2 separate regions of the Homo sapiens genome follow, and region 2 is reported to be linked to region 1. Evidence: microRNA targets listed by miRTarBase, many of them from high-throughput screens and not tested one by one. Region 1 holds a microRNA gene; the other region holds the end of a gene's coding sequence.
Evidence for each region. Region 1 holds the annotated microRNA hsa-miR-8052 (CGGGACUGUAGAGGGCAUGAGC, at 6,426-6,447, shown strand). A microRNA usually pairs through its seed, bases 2 to 8, with sites in the 3' UTR of a target mRNA and lowers its output. Matches are read on the target gene's strand: a 7mer-m8 pairs with bases 2 to 8, a 7mer-A1 pairs with bases 2 to 7 and ends in A, and an 8mer does both.

Region 2: the mRNA of TOR4A is a reported target of hsa-miR-8052. Seed matches in the 3' UTR shown: 7mer-m8 at 7,059-7,065, 8mer at 6,614-6,621, 7mer-m8 at 6,567-6,573 and 7mer-m8 at 5,766-5,772.

What each region holds. Positions count from the first base shown.
Region 1 is chr11:130,660,320-130,670,480 of GRCh38, forward strand. It overlaps MIR8052 (microRNA 8052), which reads left to right and starts at 6,416; the gene lies at 6,416-6,484.
Region 2 is chr9:137,277,599-137,287,759 of GRCh38, reverse strand. TOR4A (torsin family 4 member A) reads right to left here and starts at 10,034. Exons shown (of 2, transcript NM_017723.3): 1 at 9,853-10,034; 2 at 5,119-9,107. The coding sequence starts at 9,070. The coding sequence ends at 7,799. RefSeq lists an enhancer at 541-590 and silencers at 891-990, 6,569-6,808, 9,474-9,533, 9,814-10,133.

The sequences.
Region 1 (10,161 bases):
AATTCCAGCAGGCTTTTGTATAGAAAATTTCAAGCTGATTTAAGAATTCATCTGGTAATATAAAGGACCTAGAATAGTCAAAACAACTTTGAAGAAGAACAACTTTGAAATAAGCCTTGAAGACACATTAAAGATTATTATAAAGTTAAAACGTAGCATTGAACTCAAGGGGGACAAATAGGCTAAAGGAATGTAATAGAGTCTAGAAATAGATCCACACATACATAGCATATGCAGTCAGTTGATTTCTAAATTTTATTTTATTATTATTATTTTTTGAGATTGAGTCTCACTCTGTCGCCCAGGCTGGGGTGCAATGGCGTGATCTTGGCTCACTGCAACCTTTGCCTCTCAGGTTCAAGAGATTCTCCTGCCCCAGCCTCCCTAGTAGCTGGGATTACAGGTGTGCACCACCACACCCATCTACTTTTTGTATTTTTAGTAGAGAAAGAGTTTCACCATGTTGGCCAGGCTGGTCTCAAATTCCTGACCACAGGTGATCTGCCAGCCTTGGCCTCTCAAAGTGCTGGGATTACAGGCATGAGCCACAGCACCTGGCCTAGATTTTATTTATTAATATATCTTTTTTTAAAGAGAATTTTTAGGCTTACAGAAACATTGAGCAGATAGTGCAGAGTTCCCATAAACCTCTGTACTACTTTCCGCTCACCACCCTACCAGTTTCCCCTGTTATTAACATCTTGCCTCAGTGTGGTTCATTTGCTACCTCTGGTGAACCTACACTGATACATTATTATTTACTGAAGCCCATAGTTTATACTAGGCTTCACTCTTAGTGTTGTATGTTCTATGGATTTTGACAAATAAATAATATTATGTATCCACAGTTACAATATCTTACAGAATACTTTCACTACCCTAAACATCCCTTGTGTCCCACCTATTCATCTCACTCTCCCTCCCCCTGAAAACCTCCCCTCCCCTGGCAATTACTTATTTATTTATTTATTTTTTACCGCCTTTACAGTTTTGCTTTTCCCAGAATGTTATATAATTGGAGTCATACAACAGATAGCCCTCTTAGAATGGATGCTTTCCCTTAGAAATATACATTTAAGGTTTCATCCATGTCTTTTCCTAGCTTGACAGCTCATTTCTTTTTAGTGCGAATAGATGTGCCATGGTTTGTTTATCCGTCCGCCTACTGAAGGGCATCTTCCTGTTTCTGGCAATTAGAAATGAAGCTGTGATAAACGATGGTGTGCAGGAGCCCTACTGATATGGTGGTAATATGTTGGGGGGAAGGGAAACTTTCTATTATCCTGTGACTGGATGTCAGTCATTGAGAGTCTGTGCTGCTGAGGTGTGACATTCAGGGGTGCTTCTCAACTTTCCCTTTCCCGTTTGGAGAAACAAGAAGGCTAGAGGAGGCTGGAGCTATTTCCCTTACCCCACATAGACAGCCACAGGGAGCTGGTGTTGGGGACATCCCTTCCCACAGGCCCATCAGGATCTGATAAAACCCCCAGTTATGCCCCAGTAGAAGAGGTTCCTTTGGGGGCAGGCCTTTGTTAAGGGGAAGAGATCACCCTGAACATATTTCAAAATGATTGCTCCTCTCCCCTTGCTGGAAACAAGAGGAGATTTTCTCTAATTTTCACTCTGAGATCTGGGTGGGGCTCCTGGACGTAAAACTTATGAAAGTGTGGGGCTCCCCTAAGAATGGGCTGCTAGGACTTTTTAGTCCATAGCTTGGTCTCCAGCAATGAGTCAATTATTGTTTAGGTGTTCCTACCACAGCTGGGGCTTCTGCTCCTGTAAGCTCTCATTCTGTGCATCTACCTTTCTCTCAGTTTTTGGGGTAGTAGCATGGCCTGTGACCTTTCTCTGATTGATCAAAGAAGAGTTGTTGATTTTCAGTTTGTTCAGTATTTTCCTTGTGAGGCTGGAAGTGATGGCAAGCTCTTTACAAGTGGAAGTTGGAAGTTGTCAATTGCTTTTGAACAATGATGCAAAGCCAGTCCATCCAGTGAAGAATGGATGGTCTTTAAACAAATGGTGCTGGAACAATGGGACACACATATTAAAAAAAAAATAAAGAAAGAACTTTGATCCGTACCTTGTACCACATGCAAAATTAACTCAAAATGGATCAAATTGATCCTAGAACCAAGCATAAAGCCCAACACCATAAAACATCTAGGAAAAAAGTTAGGAGACAGATCTTTACAAACTTAGGTTAGGCACAGATTTTTTAGATACAACATCAAAAGCATGATCCAGGAAATAAAAATCATTAAGTTGGACTTCATCAAAATTAAGAATGCCACCATCAGGGAAAAAATACTTGCAAATTACACAAAAGATTTGTATCCTAAATATAAAATCTCTATAATAAGGAAACAGACAATCCAATTGAAAAATGGGCAAAAGATTTGAACAGATGTTTTACCAAAGAGATACACAGATGGCAAATAAACATATGAAAAGATGTTTGACATCATTTTTATTAGAGAAATGAAAATACAAATTAAAACCATAACGAGATACAACTATAACCCTATTAGAATGTCTGACTTTAAAATCTCTGACCCCTACCCAGTGTATATAAGGATGTGGAGGAACTATTTCCCACACAGTATTGGTGAAAATGTAAAATATGCAGCCCCTTTGGAAACAGTTTGGCAGTTTCTTCAAAAGTGAAACATGGCCAGGCGCGGTGGCTCATGCCTGTAATCCCAGCACTTTGGGAGGCCGAGGCGGTTGGATCACCTGAGATCAGCAGTTTGAGACCAGCCTGGCCAACATGGTGAGACCCCGTCTCTACTAAAAATACAAAAATTAGCCGGGTGTGGTGGCATGTGCCTGTAATCCCAGCTACTCGGGAGGCTGAGGTAGGAGAATCGCTTGAACCCAGGACGCAGAGAGGTTGCAGTGAGCCAGGATCGCGCCATTGCACTCCAGCCTGGGCAACAAGCGACATTCCGTCTCGGGGACAAAAAACCAAACACCGCATGTTCTCACTCATAGGCGGGAATTGAACAATGAGATCACATGGACACAGGAAGGGGAACATCACACACCGGGGCCTGTTGTGGGGTGGGGGAAGGGGGGAGGGATAGCATTAGGAGATATACCTAATGTTAAATGACGAGTTAATGGGTGCAGCACACCAGCATGGCACATGTATACATATGTAACAAACCTGCACGTTGTGCGCAGGTACCCTGAAACTTAAAGTATAATTAAAAAAAAAGAAAAAATTGAAACATACGGGTATCATATGACACAGTCATGGCTATCTAATGATATCTCATTATAGCTTAAATTTATAGTCGTTTGTGAAGTGAAAAAAAAATTTAACTACTGGAAGGAAAAAATGAAAGAAAGGAGTAACAGATATTCATTCACACATCAGGGCCGGTCGCGGGGTGCGGGGCAGGGGGAGGGACAGCATTAGGAGAAATACCTAATGTAAATGACTAGTTGATGTGTGCAGCAAACCAACATGGCACATGTATACCTATGTAACAAACCTGCACGTTGTGTCCAGTTACCCTAGAACTTAAAGTATAATAAAAATAAATTAAAAAAAATCATTTGGCCATCCTCTTCCCCTAAGTTGAGGAAGGATCTTGTAAAAGTCCTCCAAGGATAAGTTGAAAGGATGTTCTATGGGATAGAGCCTAAAGAATATTTGCCTGCTAGGTTGTGTTTTAACAATGCAATTGCAATGTATACAGAAGTCTAAAAAGTAAACCCTGCTTTTAAAGATCATTGATATGTATATAAATCATTTTCTAAAATAAATGGGGACTTGAACTTTCCTACCTGCAATCTCCATTCCAAGATATGGTTAGAACAGCATTGTCCAAAGTGTATTCTCCACAATTCTTCTGCTCATAGGTGTTATTAAAAAAAGGTGAAATCTAGTAAAACTGGCTCGATGAGAAGTTTGAATATAAATAATCATGAGAAAACCTAGGGGAAGCACGTATTATGCAAGAAAATATACATATTCTAACCATGGGCTCTCTCTGTTTTTAGAGGCATTTTCTCAGACTAGTGTTCCATGAAATAATCTTTAGCGATGCCAACCTCAATGCAATTTGTATTCTGCAAATGCAATTTAAAACTGAGACCAGAAATCAATCAGACGTCAGGGAATGGTTAAGCAGGGTTCTCTACTCAGGATAATAATGATAAAAATGCTTACCTTTTCATGTTATTTCTTAACTTTATTAATCAGCTAGAAGAGCAGGGGTCTTGGGTGTTTTGTCAGCAGTCAGGGTCAGGCATGGAAACCTCTCTATGTGATCTGAGAGGGGGTGTCTTGGAGAGAAGCCAAGTGAGAAAGCCAGGTAGCCTGCCCATGAGAAAGCCTCAGGCAGAGAGGAAGGAGCTGAATGTGTGTGCCCGTGGGAGGAAACTGCATTTCTCAACATTTTTCAAAGATGCTATTGCCTTTCTACTATTGGACTTAGAAATTGCAATTGTTCTACATCAGTAGGAGCAAAGGTGAGAGGAAAAACTTAGAGGAGCTCCCTTGGTCAATGAGTGCAGAGGTTTGCAGCTCTTTATGGAGACGAGAGTAGGGGCAACTATGAAAGGTGGCCCTATATGAACATGCCCTTTCCTTCACTTTGTACCCCTTTTCCTGAGTGGAGGAGGCTGTGCTCTCCCTGGACTTACCCAAAAGAAGGCCTTGCTTGGCTCTGAGTTTCTACTTCTCAAGTAGAAAGCAGAGTCTGTTCTGTTTCTGGCCACTGTTCTCTCAATAAACCATATGCTATGGTTTGATGGGATTTTGCAGGGGTCCAGCATTTCTTTCCCTGTAGATTTTTTTTTTTTTTTTTTTTTTGAGACGGAATCTCACTCCGTCACCCAGGCTGGAGTGCAGTGGCGTGATCTCGGCTCACTGCAGCCTCTGTCTCCCGGGTTCAAGCCATTCTTCTGCGTCAGCCTCCTGAGTAGCTGGGATTATAGGTGCGTGCCAACATGCCCAGCTAATTTTTGTATTTTGAGTAGAGATGGGGTTTTGCCATGTTGGCCAGGCTGGTCTCTAACTCCTGAGCTCAAGTGATCCCGTCTCGGCCTCCCAAAGTGCTGGGATTACAGGCGTGAGCCACCTCCCCCAGCCCTTTGAGTAGATTCTAATAGCCCATCCTCTAATGCTTAGGCTATCAAATCGACAAGACAAGATGCAAGAACTCTACCTCATTGCTTACATAGGAGGATTTTTGATTTGGTCCACAGCACACACTGTGTTTGCTGGTTAAGTCCGTCTCAAAACAGGTTTTTTTTCCACCTATGGCGTCAGGTAGGGATATCATCCAATTAGATCCCAAGCCCTCAGGACAGGGGCTCTTCAAAGTTGCCATTCAGTAAGTTCTGGAAGATAGCTGAGATGTCACATGGGCCAAATGGCTTTCTTGTGCATTCAAAATGAGTTGAGCACATTTAGAAGCCCATCCTCCACTCATCATTTTTCTAGAGACAAAGTTGTGGGTGCCTCTGAGCATGAATTTCATAAAGGCTCATCCTGCACAGAGCTGGTTCAAGAGATTGTAGGAAGAGGTGGTGGTAAAGAATGATGACTATCTTGAGATCTGAATATGCCTGGAAGAGGCAACTTCTTTTGTCCCTCCAACTTAAAAAAAATTACGAAGTTCACTGGGGCTTATACAGGGAGAAGGAGGATCTGCGGAGGTCCCCGCTCCAGTGTGATTTTAATATATTGGTGTAGGTGCAGAGCTTGTGGAATGCGTCAATCTCACAGCCATACACATCATGTGAGGATATGTAGTTCTTCCTCCTCTTCCTGTCCCTCCTCGTCTTCCTTTTCCTCCCCCTCCTCCTCCTCCTCTTCCTTTTCCTCTTTTTCTTTCTCTTTCTCTTCTTCCTCCTCCTTCTTCATCTGAAACTATTCTTATAGGCAATCTGATGGTAGACATCTCATGGGAAACAGTGGACAGTGTTATTAAAGAGACTTATGGGTCATAGCCATCTGTGTGATTAGGGATACCATGGCTGGCGAATAATGGCTAATGGAAGCTTCTCCAGCCCTCACCTTGTGGCTTGAAGCAGATTCTTCCTCAACAGTGGGTATAAATGCCTAGTTTATTTTCTGGAGTCCCCTTGGACTGGGTGGGTGGGGATCCAGCCAAGCTAAATCAGGACTGGAACTATGACTTCTTTAAGTTTTACTACACTGATATAGAGTCAGAAACTAATGATCCTGACCTTCTCTGGGATGCAGAAAACCCTTCCTGTGGCCAACAAATTAGGTACAATGCAGGCAGGAGCAGCTTCCCTGGCAATTGGGTTGTATCTCATTGGATATGGCAACTTTGGATAGAGTGGCCTATTATTATTCTGTGGGACAGGCACAACTGGGCATCTGTGGGTAATGAAGGAGGGTGCCAGCCGTAGGAGATCCCTTGTCTCCCTGGTCTGGAGGGCTGCGGGACTGTAGAGGGCATGAGCTCAGGAGCTCAGGCCAGCTCATGGTGCAAGGCCTCTGGAAGCCTTCTCAAAATGGTATCTGATTTAATTAAGACTCTGGCTGAGAATCCAGAGTGCCAGGGCTTGGTGGGCCACACATCCTCTCTTGCAGCCTGTGTGTGGCTTTTCTGGCCACCTCCAGGCTGTCAGGGAGTGCTGTTAGACTTTTAGCCGCAGCCTGCCATCTGGAGGAAAGGAATTGGCCACTTTTCTGCATTTCCTGCCATAAATGGGAAAAAGTATGACAGAATTTTGAGGTTTTTTTTCTACCCTCATGGGGTAGAATGTTTTAATTTTGAATACTTGCACCTCATTCTACAAAGAATCTGAGGTGGCTTATACAAATGCACACAATACAAATGAGTGGAAATAAATAATTGAATGAGTCAGAGTGATGGGAAATACAGTGAGTAAAAGGAAGCCAAGGGTAATTTATTACCCCAAAATGCACACTCCATGGTCCTTGGTGTGTCCTGTGGTTGGGCCATATATTTCCACCTAGGGAGGAAGTTAAAGTCCTAAAATTTTGGTAAAAGCAATTTTAACAAAAGAGTAAACTCATGCAGTCCTTAAATCCAGAAGTCTGTCTTAATTAGGATGAAAAAAATTGTAACTCTAAGTGCGATTTTTTTCATTTTTTGTATTAATTTTAGTATGCTATTTGAGACTATTTATAATATGTGTAAGTTACAAAATATAGTATGATGAACATTTCTGAACCCAGCAGTCAAGCAAAGGACAAGTCCATTCCCAGTAACTCGTATCCACCCTCACTTCTGCTCCTAACCTCCTTCTGTGTCCTGCTTTTCTTTTCCGCACAGAGAGAACCACTATCCTGAATTTTAGAATTATTCTTTTGATTTTTTGTTTTGTTTTATCCCAAATGCATGCATATGTAAATAATATTTTGCCCAGTTTTGCTTATTTTTAGGTTTATTAAAATAATATCTATTAGGTTGATGCAAACGTAATGAGGTTTTTGCAATTACGTTCGCACCAACTGAATAAATCAAAGTCTTCTGGGTTCTTTCCTTTTCCATTCAACATCATGTTTCTAAGATTCCTTAATGTTCTCACACATGTGTGCAATTCATTTTTTTCTACTGCTTTATTATGATACTTTTCATGGATACATTGCCCCTTATCCATTCTCTGCTGTTGACTCTTTAGGTTGCCTTTAGTATTGTACTATTATGAACAAAGGTCCTGAAGTCACTTTTGAATATGTCTCCTGGTGCACATATTCAAGAGTTTCTCTAGGGTGGATACCTAGGAGTAGAATTATGTGGTATGCTTCACAAGATAATGCTGAAATGTTTTCCAAAGCAATTATACAATCTCACCAGTAAAGTATAAACCTTTTCAAATCCTTATTTGACATTGTCAGATATTAATTTTTGTCAATCTAGTGGCATAAAAACTATCTCATTGTGGAAATGCAATTGCGTACCCTTGACTAGTAGGGCAGTGAAGAATCTTTTCATGCTTTTTTTTATGGTTTTCTTCTTGTGTGAAATATTTTAAAAATGTATTTTGCACATTTTATTGGGTTTATTGTCATTTTCTTATTGATTCATGACAATCTTTTAGATATCTTCTCTTAGGCCAACGTTTCATTCTGTATCTCAGGCAGGCCATTTTATTTATTGTAATGGCTTGAATTTCTTTCTGTGTATTGATTACTCACAAATCTAAGTATTCAGCCCAAGATGTTCTTCTGAGCATCACACACATGAATCCAACCAGACACTCAACACCTTTATGTGAATGTCTCACAAGATTGTGAGGCTCAATATGTCCAAAATTGAGTTCAGCATCTTTCCACCCAGGCTGAATTCCTCCATTTTGTCTTCTATCTTAGAGGAATCACCACCAAAAACTCAGGTATCCAAGCTACAAACTTAAGTGTGGTTTTTGACTCTAGCTTCTCCTTTATATGTGATGTCCAATCAATAACCAGGTTCTATGGATAGTAATTTCTAAATGTCCCTTGAGTCTATTCTTGTCTCTGAATCCCCAATGCTGTTCCTTTATTCAATAATCACAGGCACCCCAAATTGCTTCAGGACCCTCCTAGTTGGACTTCTGGTCTGCAGTCAGCATACTGGAGCCGTGGAGATAGCTTTTTAAAACATGCCATGTGGTCAAGTCACTCCCTTGTTTAAAACATTTTAATGGTTCCCCAGGGGGTGGAGGCTGCAGTGAGTTGAGATCACGCCACTGCACTCTAGCTTGGGTGACAGAGCAAGACTCCATCTCAAAAAAAAAAAGTTTTAGTGGTTCCTATTACTTACCAAGGTCCAAACACATCATGGCTTAAAAGACCCTTCATAGTCTGACCCCAGGTCATCTCTCATTCCTCATCCACTGTCATGTCCTCTGCGTGCTTTGTGCACCAGTCGGACCCAGATGTGGCAGAAGCTGCAGATATGGCAGAAGCTGCAGATATGGCAGAAGCTGTCCTACCTGAAAAGATTAATAAAGAAATGTCAAGTAAAAAAACCACATACCACCTGTTCTCACTTTTAAGGGAGCACTAAGCATTAGGTACAGTGGAAATCAAGACGGGAACAATAGACACCGGGGAGTCCAAAAGAAGGGAGGGAGAGGGGCAGGAGTTGAAAAACTACCTGCTGTGCACTGTGCTCCCAAACCTCGGCCTCACACAATCTATCCACATAACACACCTGAATCTAAAACTAAAAAAATAAAATTTGGTTGGGTGCGATGGCTCACACCTATAATCTCAGCACTTTGGGAGGCCAAGGTGGGTGGATCCCCTGAGGTCAGGAGCTCGAGACCAGCCTGATCAACGTGGGGAAACCCCGTCTCTACTAAAAATACAAAAGTTAGCCAGGTGTGGTGGTGCGTGTCTGTAATCCCGGCTACTCCGGAGGCTGAGGCAGGAGAATCACTTGAGCCCGGGAGGCTGAGGTTGCAGTGAGCCGAGATCGCACCACTGCACTCCAGCCTGGGTGACAGAGCCAGACTCCGTCTCAAAAAATACAATACAATAAAATAAAGAATTGTTAAAATGGTAAAAGTCATGTTATGTATATTTTGCCACAGTAAAATAAAAATGGATCAAAAACAAACTTGGGTAAAACAGGGAATCATACAAAAATGACATATACATGTGATATGTATTTTATTTCAACTCAAAACACAGAAATCCATATTTACTCAGCAATGTCTTGAAACAGGGCCAAGACTTCTTCTTAGAATGTAACTTGATTGGTGTTTGGAATCATCTTTTTTGCATAAACCACACCAATAATTGATTATTTATGGTTTCTAATTACAAATGAATCAAGACTTAAGAACACTTATGAAGCAATGTAAGTACATAATTCTTCTACATTTTAAAAACGTTTCCCCCCAAAACTATTAGAGTTGTTTTTTCCATATCTAGTTTGATAGCATTTTCTTTTTAGGACTTAGACTCATGAAGTCTCTTCAAAGCATTCTACCTAGGATAAAAATAGCAACTTTCTTTTGTAATCATGTTTCATGAGTTTATATAATACCTGCTTAAGTCCTATAATTAAAATAACATTAAGTCTGGCATAAACAGTTTTGGGAACAAATACAGCTGACCCTTGCTAAGCATATAACTCATCCGCTGGAGTGGAAGTACACAGGCTCACCGGCCTCGCACGCTCCTGTGCTGTGTGTGCACTCGTCAGTATTTTTTTT
Region 2 (10,161 bases), not on the chromosome of region 1:
GGTGGTGCACACCTGTGGCCCCAGCTGCTTGGGATGCTGAGCTGGGAGGATCACTTGAGCCCAGGAGTGCAAGGCTGCAGTGAGCTATGACTCTACCACTGTACTCTAGCCTGGGTGACAGAGTAAGACCCTGTCTCAAAAAAATAAAAATTTTAAAAAAAGAAAAGAGGCTGGGCTCGGTGGCTTACACCTGTAATCCCAGCACTTTGGGAGGCCGACACAGGTGGATCACCTGAGGTCAAGAGTTGGAGACCAGCCTGGGCAACATGATGAAACCCTGTCTCTACTAAAACTACAAAAGTTAGCCAGGTAAGCTACTCGGGAGGCTGAAGCAGAAGCATCACTTGAACCCGGGAGGCAGAGGTTGCAGTGAGCCGAGATCACGCCACTGCACTCCAGTCTGGGCAACAAGAGCGAAACTCCGTCTTGAAAAAAAAAATAAGAAAAACTACGACGCTCTACGCTCATCCTCAGAGGCAGAAGGGCAGAAATCACCAGCTCACACCCCCGGGCAATGGCCACGTGCTGGAGCGCCTTCCATCCCCGTTCCCTTTCCAGCCTCCAGAAACTCCACGAGGTCCTGGACATGAGTCTGCATCTCTTGGGAGGTGCTGAGTGGGTGTCTCTCCCTGAGCTGCACTGACACCTGCTGGAGGCTCTGACGGCCTCAGTCCACGAAGGCCCATGGCAGGGACTGCTCCTTGTAGCTCATCCATCACCAGCTCCACACAGTCAAAGACCTTCTCCTGGGTCAGGTGCAGTGGCTCACGCCTGTAATCTCAGCACTTTGGGAGGCCAAGGCAGGCGGATCACCTGAGGTCAGGAGTTCAAGACCAGCCTGACCAACATGGTGAAACCCCATCTCTACTAAAAATACAAAGTTAGCCAGGTGTGGTGGCACATGCTGCAATCTCAGCTACTTGGAAGGCTGAGACAGGAGAATAGTGTGAACTCAGAAGGCGGTTACAGTGAGCCGAGATCGCACCACTGCACTCCAGCCTGGGCGACAGAGCGAGACTCCGTCTCAAAAAAAAAAAAAAAAAGAACACAGTCTGGGCCAGGTGTGGTGGCTCAAGCCTGTAGTCCCAGCACTTTGAGAAGCCAAAGCAGGAGGATCCCTTGAGCCCAGGAGTTTGAGACTAGCTTGGGCAACATAGTGAAACCTCATCTGTACAAAAAATGAACAAAATTAGCTGGGCGTGGTGACATGCACCTGTAGTCCCAGCTACTCGGGAGGCTGAGGCAGGAGGATTGCTTGAGCCTGTTGCTATGTGCTTGAGCAATGTGCTATGATCATGCCATTACACTCCAGCCTGGGCAACCGAGTGAAACTCTGTCTGGAAAAAAAAAAGTATACTGTAGTTTCACTTCAACTTCAGAAATTCTGACTTTGGTTGATCCTCTGAACATGTAATCGCAGACACTCAACCTGATAGTGCAACAAAAACTGATCCCAAGCCTGAGGCTCTGAAGAAACCTCTGCTATGGATTCCTTCATCTCAACCACAGGTATTGCCAGAAACAAATCTGATGCTTTTTCTTTTGGGTATTCAAAACATTTTTGTAGATTTTCATTGCTTTCCATTCTGTCTACAAAATGTTTCAAATCTTCAGAAAGAGAAGATACATTGGCTTTAAAACTTTCAAGGTGAAGCCAGGTGCGGTGGCTCACGCCTGTAATCCCAGCACTTTGAGAGGCCGAGGCAAGAGGATTGCTTGATCTCAGGAGTTCGAGACCAGCCTGGCCAACATATAGTGAAACCCCGTCTCTACTAAAAAAATACAAAAATTAGGCCGGGTGCAGTGGCTCACACCTGTAATCCCAGCACTTTGGGAGGCCAAGGTGGTGGATCACCTGAGATCAGGAGTTTGAGACCAGCCTGGCCAACATGGAGAAATCCTGTCTCTACTAAAACTACAAAAATTAGCTGGGCGTGGTGGCACATGCCTGTAATCCCAGCTACTCAGGAGGCTGAGGCAGGAGAATTGCCTGAACCCAGGAGGCAGAGGTTGCCGTGATCTGAGATTGCACCACTGCACTCCAACCTGGGAAACAGATTGAGATTCATCTCTCAAAAAAAATTTAAAAAAAAAACTTTCAAGATGGAAAACAATTTTTTATATATAATAAAGAATTGAAAGACAAAAAAAAAAAGAACCAAATGGAAATGGAAAGTTTGGAGTTAAAAAGCACAAAAACTGAAATGAGAAATCCACTAAAGAGGTTGAGCAACAGATTTTTTTTTTTTTTTTTTGAGATAAGTCTCGCTCTGTCTCCCAGGCTGGAGTGCAATGGCTCAATCTCGGCTCACTGCAACCTCTGCCTCCTGGATTCAAGTGATTCTCCTGCCTCAGCCTCCCGGGCAGCTGGAATTGTATGTGCTCGCCATGCAATTTGAGACTAGATCAATAGAAACTACCCAATGTGGGGCCGGACACGGTGGCTCATGCCTGTAATCCCAGCACTTTGGGAGGCCGAGGAGGGCGGATCATGAGGTCAGGAGATCGAGACCATCCTGGCTAACATGGTGAAACCCCGTCTCTACTAAAAAAATGCAAAAAAAAAAATTAGCCAGTCATGGTGGCAGGCGCCTGTAATCCCAGCTACTAAGGAGGCTGAGGCAGAATGGCGAGAACCCGGGAGGCGGAGCTTGCAGTGAGCCAAGATTGCGCCACTGCACTTCCAGCCTGGATGACAGAGCAAGACTCCATCTCAAAAAAAAAAAATGCAAAAAACTAGCCAGGCGTGGTGATGGGCGCCTGTAGTCCCAGCTACTTGGGAGGCTGAGGCAGGAGAATGGCATGAACCCAGGAGGCGGAGCTTGCAGTGAGCAGAGATCGCGCCACTGCACTCCAGCCTGGGCAACAGAGCGAGACTCTGTCTCAAAAAAAAAAAAAAAAACAAAAATTACCAGGACATGGTGGCACACGCCTCTGGTCCCAGCTACTCAGGAGGCCAAGGCAGGAGAATCGCTTGAACCTGGGAGTTTAAGGCTGCAGTGAGCCAAGATTGCACCACTAGCTGAGATTGCACCACTGCCCTCCAGCCTAGGTGACAGAGTGAGACCCTGTCTCAAACAAACAAACCAAAAAAAAAAAAAAAAGCTTTATTTCAAAAAGTTTGCCTAGGGCCAGGCATGGTGGCTCACGCCTGTAATCCCAGCACTTTGGGAGGTCTAGGCTGGAGGATCACTGTAAGTGGGGAGTTTGAGACCAGCCTGTCCAATATGGTATAACCCTGTCTCTACTAAAAATACAAAAATTAGCTGAGCATGTTGGTGCGTGCCTGCAATCCCAGCTACTCGGGAGACTGAGGCAGGAGAATTGCTTGAACCCAGGAGGTGGAAGTTGCAATGAGCCGAGATCATCGCACCATTGCACTCCAGCCTAGACAACAAGAGTGAAACTCCGTCTCAAAACAAAACAAAACAAAAAATTAGCTGGGCATGGTGGCACACACCTGTAGTCCCAGGTACTAGGGAGGCTACAGCAGGAGAATCCCTTGAACCCAGGAGGCAGAGGTTGCAGTGAGCCAAGATCGAGCCACTGCACTCCAGCCTGGGCGATAGAGCAAGACTGTCTCAAAAAAAAAAAATCAATAAAATTAGACAATTTAGATGAAATGGACAAATTCCTAGAAGTTCCAAGAAAGACACAAATTACCAAAACTGACTCAGGGACTTTGCAGATGTAGGTAAGTGTGGACCTTGGATGGGAAGATAATCCGTTATTACCCAGGTGGACACATTTACTTATTTATTTTATCTTTTTTGAGACATAGTCTCACTCTGTCGTCCAGGCTGGAGTGCAGTCGCAGGGTCTTGGCTCACTGCAAGCTCCACCTCCTGGATTCAAGCGATTCTCCTACCTCAGCCCCCCAAGTAGCTGGGATGACAGGAACTCGACACCACATCCGACTGATTTTTGTATTTTTAGTAGAGACAGGGTTCCACCATGTTGGCCAGGCTGGTCTTGAACTCCTGACCTCAGGTGATCTGCCCGCCTTGGCCTCCCAAAGTGCTGGGATTATAGGCGTGAGCCACTGCGCCTGGCCCAGGTGGACACATCTAGTCACATGGGTCTTTAAAAGCAGAAAACTCTTCCTGGCTGTGGTCGGAAGGATGCAGTGTTGCTGACCTTGAAAAATGCAGAGAATGGCCAGGCGCGGCGGCTCACGCCTGGAATCCCAGCACTTTGGAAGGCCGAGGTGGGAGAATCGCTTGAGCCCAGGAGGTCGAGGCTGTAGTGAGCCACAATCACGCCATTGCATTCCAGCCTGAATGACAGAGAGAACCTGTCTCTATTAAAAGAAAAGAGAAGCCAGGCACGTTGGCTCACAACTGTAATGCCAGCATTTTGGGAGGCTGAGATGGGTAGATCACCTGAGGTCAGGAGTTCGAGACCAGCCTGGCCAACATAGTGAAACTGAGTCCCTACTAAAAATACAAAAATTAGCTGGGTGTGGTGGTGGGCGTCTGTAATTCCAGCTACTCAGGAGGCTGAGGCAGGAGAATTACTTGAACCCAGGAGGTGGAGGCTGCAGTGAGTGGAGATCACACCACTGCACTCCAGCCTGGGTGACAGAGCGAGACCTTGTCTCAAAAAAAAAAAAAAAAGTCATTATGATGTGCACACACAGATCACGAGGGTTACTACGTAATGACACATGGCAGATGTCAAAGAATAACTCAGAGACAACTGCACAGAAACAGTTTCTGCACATATGAGGGAGAGCAGCTATGACATTTGGGATCATCTGGTTAGCTGGCAACTTCCCGCATGTCCAGCCTGGGTCATCTGCCCTCAGCACCTGTCCAGGGCAATTAAAGAAAATACTTTAGTTATTTATGGATTTCCTGGAAAGCCCGGATGTTTGAGCTGCAGACTGCATGTGAGCCCCAATCCTTCCATCAGCCTCCAGGTCCACACCACTTCCCCATTCAGAAGTTTCTCAAAACAAAACAAAAAACAAAACTCTCGATCAGCATGTCCTATTAAATAGAAGCTTAGAGAGAAATGGATAAATCTACCATAAATCTACAATTAGGGAAAGATTTCAGCATCCTCCTCAATTATTAACAGACCAGACAGACAAGAAACAAACCAAACAGTAGGTCGTCAGATTTGAACCACACAATTTATTAACAAGCATGATTTGTGGCCTCGTTTATTACCAGCCCCCACCCCAGCACTTGGTGCACATTCTCCTTAAGCGCAGAATTTGGCCTCAAGGTAATATTTTAGGAATAAATAAAAAGAGGCCGGGCACGGTGGCTCACACCTGTAATCCCAGCACTTTGGGAGGCCGAGGTGGGCGGATCACGAGGTCAGGAGTTCGTGACTAGCCTGGCCAACATAGTGAATCACCGTCTCTACCAACAATACAAAAAAATTACCCGGGCGTGATGGCGGGCGCCTGTAATCCCAGCTACTCGGGAGGCTGAGGCAGGAGAATCGCTTGAACCCAGGAGGCAGAGGTTGCAGTGAACCGAGATCGTGTCATTGCACTCCAGCCTGGGCAACAAGAGCAAAACTCTGTGTCAAAAAAAAAAGAAAGAAAGAAAGAAAGAGATAAAATTTCCCCTTAGGTCTGGACCTTTTGATACAAGCCGATGCTCAGCGGGTGTTGTTGACTGACAGGTGGATGAATGGCCCACGCTTGCCGGCAGGTGACACCTCCAGGTGGGTGCTCTGTGGGAAGGGGAGCTGACAGTCCTGGGGGTCCTGCCTGGGGAGCAGTGGGCACCCCAACATTCACCCATGCAGGGACTGGCAAACACACCCCCACTCTGCAGCTCTCTCTGTTACCACCTTGAAGCCAACACGAAGGCCAGACCAGAGCTGGGTGTCCCTCTGTGTGGGCTCCTGGGACAGATACTCGCCTGGGAGAGGTGGGGCTCCTTCTCCCAGCTCCTTCCCCTAGCCCTGGGGTTGGGGTGGACAGAGCTGGGCTGAACTCAGCCCTGGTTCCCAGCGCTGGCTAGCCGGTCCTGCACAGCCCCAGGAGGCAAAGGTTTCCTGGTAGCCCCCACCCCCACCCCGTGGAGCCGGACCCCTCCCCAAGACTCCAGGAGCAGCGGGAGTCCTCAGGACCCTCTGGGCAGGACGGGGCAGCCCTCTCGCTAGCGCTCCCGCCCTGGGCCCAGGACCTGCGCGCCGAGCTCGAGCTCCGCGGAGCCGCTGCCATCCGCCCAGAGATCCCAGACTTTCAAGCGGCCTGAATCCCCGTCTCCACTAGACGGCCCTCGCCCCCGACCACAGACACCAACCACCAGGGCGAGAATGGATGCGAGGCGGGGGAGAGAACAGGACACCCTCCGGGAAGCCGCAGGACCTCTGCTCAGGGAACTAGCGGGGCCCCTCCGGGGACACCGGCGCTGGTGGGCGCGGTCTCCGGGCTGAGTTCAGGCCTCGGGGCCGGAGGAGTCCCACTTGCCAGGGGCGCCCGCCGTGTGCGCTCGACTCGGGGCTTCCGGCGCGGCCCCGCCTCCACCTTCGCGGTGCCCCCACCTCGACGGCGCCCCGCACCGGCGTGAAACCTCCTCGCTGCCCTCTGAGCCCCTTTCGGGACTGGTCATCGCCGCCCCTGCGCTCCTCCCGGGCAGGCCCGGGTTGGGACTGCAGCGGGGCCGGCGGCGGGGACAGAGGATCGGGGCGGCCTGGGGGACTCAGGGCCCAGCCGCGCGCTCAGCCCCCGGCGACCACAGAAGCCACCGGCTGGGCCGGGCGCGCCACAAGGCGGCAGCAGCGGGGCTGCCGGGTGCGTCCCAGACACCGGGGCTGTGGGAGGAGGCGAGAACCGTCCCGAGGCAACCGCCGGCCCCGAGGAGACATGGCGCAAAAAACGCCCAAAGCACCTTCCCCTAAAGCCCCCGTGGGCGCGGTGGGCCCATCCACGGGAGGCGTCCAGGAGGGCTTCCGGGAGGCGGCGCGTGGGGAGTGTGGGGTGTGGGGTCGACTGGCGTGGGGAGGGCGCTCTGCGCAGAGGGTGCGGGTGGGCGGAACTCGGGGCACAAAAGGCCCCAGGGAAAGGGAGGTCGCGCAATCGTGGTGACCAGGGGACTGGCCACGGGCTAAGGGTCCCACGTGCGGAGAAGAGGGGGATGGGGAGAGGCCTAGGCACCTCCCGCTTGCCCCGCGGGCTCTCGGTCACCCAGTAAGCCCAAGCCAGGGCTGGCGGGCCCGGGGTTGGGGGGTCCAGGAAGGAGGGGGAGAGGCTGCCTGAGGCGCCTCCGCCTCCGCTCCCCTCCCCTTACTGTCAAGACACTCCAGCCTTGAGCTCCTGAAAACACGACCTGAGTGAGGGGTGGGGTGGGTGGAGAAGGCAGCCAGAGCCCCAGCACTGTCATGGTTGGCTGTGGCCTCCTCCGGGGTCATCTCCAGGGGGGCCGGAATGAGAACCCCACTTCAGCACTGAGCAACACGCGACCACCCCCAAGAGGCGGGGTCACGTCCCAGCTGTGTGACCCCGGGAATTGTTGGCCCTGAGATCATCCTTGTACCATGGGAACCCACCTCTTGGGGCCACAGGGAGAACGCACCAGACCATGCCTGGGACGCCCAGCAGGGCAATGGGCAAGTTTGGGAGGGAGGTGGCTGCTGTCCTGCCGCCCCCAGGGACAGACTCCGGACTCTGAGGCGGGTGTGGACCTGGAAGCAGAGCTCCAAGCTGATCCGCACCCACCAGCCGGGCAGCCACAAATTCACTAGAAACCTCAGGGGCCTGCACCAGCCCACAAGGTCCCTGGTCGCCCTCCTACTGCCGCCATCAACCCAAACGTCCCGTCCTGCGCCTCCACTACAGGAGGTTCACCGTGGCCACCACCTGCTTGCAGCCGGTGACGGCAAACTCGCGGCCAGCCACGCGGTAGAAGCTGAGCTGCGCGGCCAGGTTCTCCGCGCGGGCCTGGTCAGGAAAGAAGCCCTCACCCGCCATCTCGTCCCGGAAGCAGCTGACCACATCCCGCTTGTCCAGCAGCAGAAACGGCACGATGGCCGCGGCCTGCCACAGCGGATGCTCCCGGGACAGCACAGCCAGCAGGCTGGCGCGCAGGTCTTCTTCCGCCTGCGCCGCTGCGGCCTCGGCACTGCGGAAGCCGTCGGGGCGCAGGGGCAGCGCGCGGGACGCGTTCTGCAGCACGAAGCGCGTGACCTCGGCGCCACCCGCGCCACTGAGGAGCACGTAGATGGCGTTGTGGAAGTGGTGGGAGCGCTGCGGCTGCAGGAAGCCGTGCAGCTCGTCCAGCAGCGGCCGCGGCATGAGCTCCACGTCGTCCAGCACCAAGAGTGGGGTCTTCTCCTCCGCTTCGGCCCGCGCCACCACGTCGGCCACGCGCCGCGCCAGCTCCTCGCGGCAGTCCTGTGCGGCGCGCGCCTCGGGGCAGTGGTGCCGCGCATGGTATTGCAGCACGAGCGCGCTGTCCTCCAGCACCGAGCGGAAGTGGCGCGCCAGCAGGCGGCCCACGTGGCTCTTGCCCACGCCACTGGGCCCGTGCAGCGCCAGGAGGAGCGGACGACTGTGCACATGCGTGGCCAGGTAGTCCCGCATCAGCGCCACGATGCGCGATACGGCAGCGGGCTGGCCGAACACCGCGCGCTGCAGCGCTTTCTCCAGCCCGTCGAGGTCATAGCGCTGCGCGTTATCGTCCAGGTTCTCGATAGCGTTGAGAACTTGGAAGCCCACGATGGCGACTAGCAGCAGAAGGCAGCGCTGCGCGCGGCTCCTGTGCTCCACGCGCGGCCGATACTTGCGCGAGGTCTCCGGGTAAAGCACCAGGCGGCTGCGCCGGCGCTTCTTGCGTGGCGTCCTGGAGGGTAGCTCCGCGGGGCTGTCGAAGGTGAAGAACTTTGGCTGGTCCAGGTCCGCGCGCGGTGCCCGGGGGCTGCAGCCCGGCCTGGGCGCCCCGGTCCCGACGTCGGGCCCCCCACCCGGCTGCAGGAGGCGCCGTTTGCGTAGGACACACACCCGGCGGCGCAGGCGGAGCACAGCGCGCACGGGCGCGATCACGCACCGGCCCGAGGCTCGGGGGGCCGCGGCAGCAGGCTCCAGGCTGGGCTGGCCGCGGTCCATGTCGCAGGAACGGCGCTCCGCATACAGGTCGCCCTCCCTGCAACGGGAAGACGGGGAGGGTCTCTGGACTCCCGCCACTGCCCTTTCCCGCGGGCCGCCGGAACCGGTCCCCGGAGTGATCTTACCCCCTGGGAGTCCCGTGGGGTGCGGCCCGGGCTGCCCCAGGGCCAGGGGCCTGGTCGCGGCCTCGCCCCTCAGACCGGCAAGCGACCCCTCCGCCCCTCCGCCCCTCCGCCCCTCCGCAGGGCCCCGATGCAAATCTCTCGGGTCTTCCCATAAACGGCCGCGGGCCTTGAGGAAGTGGCGGGGTAGAGGCTTATCTGGTGGCCGCCCCGGCTTCCTGGAGGAGTCGTCGAAGGAGTCAGTGGCCGCCCAGGCGCCCACTGGGGTGAACAGTCACCCCCGGACCCTGCCCCCGCCCGCGGCTCCCACTGGACTGGGCCGTCTCCCAAGGAGGGGCCGCGGGAAGCAGAGGCCTGAGCGCCCAGGAGTTCAGAGACGCCCCCACACGCTCCAGAACACTTGGCGGGGGTCTGGCTGGAACTTATGATTTTGAGAATAGGCCCGGGCCCCGTCCCCAGGCTCAACCCAGGCCTCCCAGCCCCGACTCCAAAACTGGGGTCCTCCCAACACCCCTCCAGTGAACGAGCTGAGCAGTGCAGGGAGCCCCCCGGAGACTAGTGGAGGTGAAACGAAAAGATGGACAGAAAGAAGAGGCCGGTCGGAGCAAGAGAGCCACTGACTGGCAGGAACTGGGCCCTGGGCCCCAACCCACCCCCTACCTGCAGCTGGTCCACTGCCCTCAGCTCCGCAGGCCCCTGCCTGTGCCAGACGCTGGGGCCTGAGACTCCAAGCAGGAAATGCGCCTCCCAGGGCGAGGGGGTGGGCCAGGGGCCTCCTGGGCCAGCTTCGGCCTGGAGGGGCAGCGACACCTGTGGGTCCCCAGGGAGCGGCCGGCCGGAGTAGAGGAAGCTCTGGGGAGGTTTCCGCTTCTATGCAAAGGAAGTGAGTCAGGGGGTGCGGCCCAGGCGGGACTTGGGCTGGACGGAGGCGCCAAAGGGGGGAGGCCTGGCCGGCTTGCCCAGATCCCC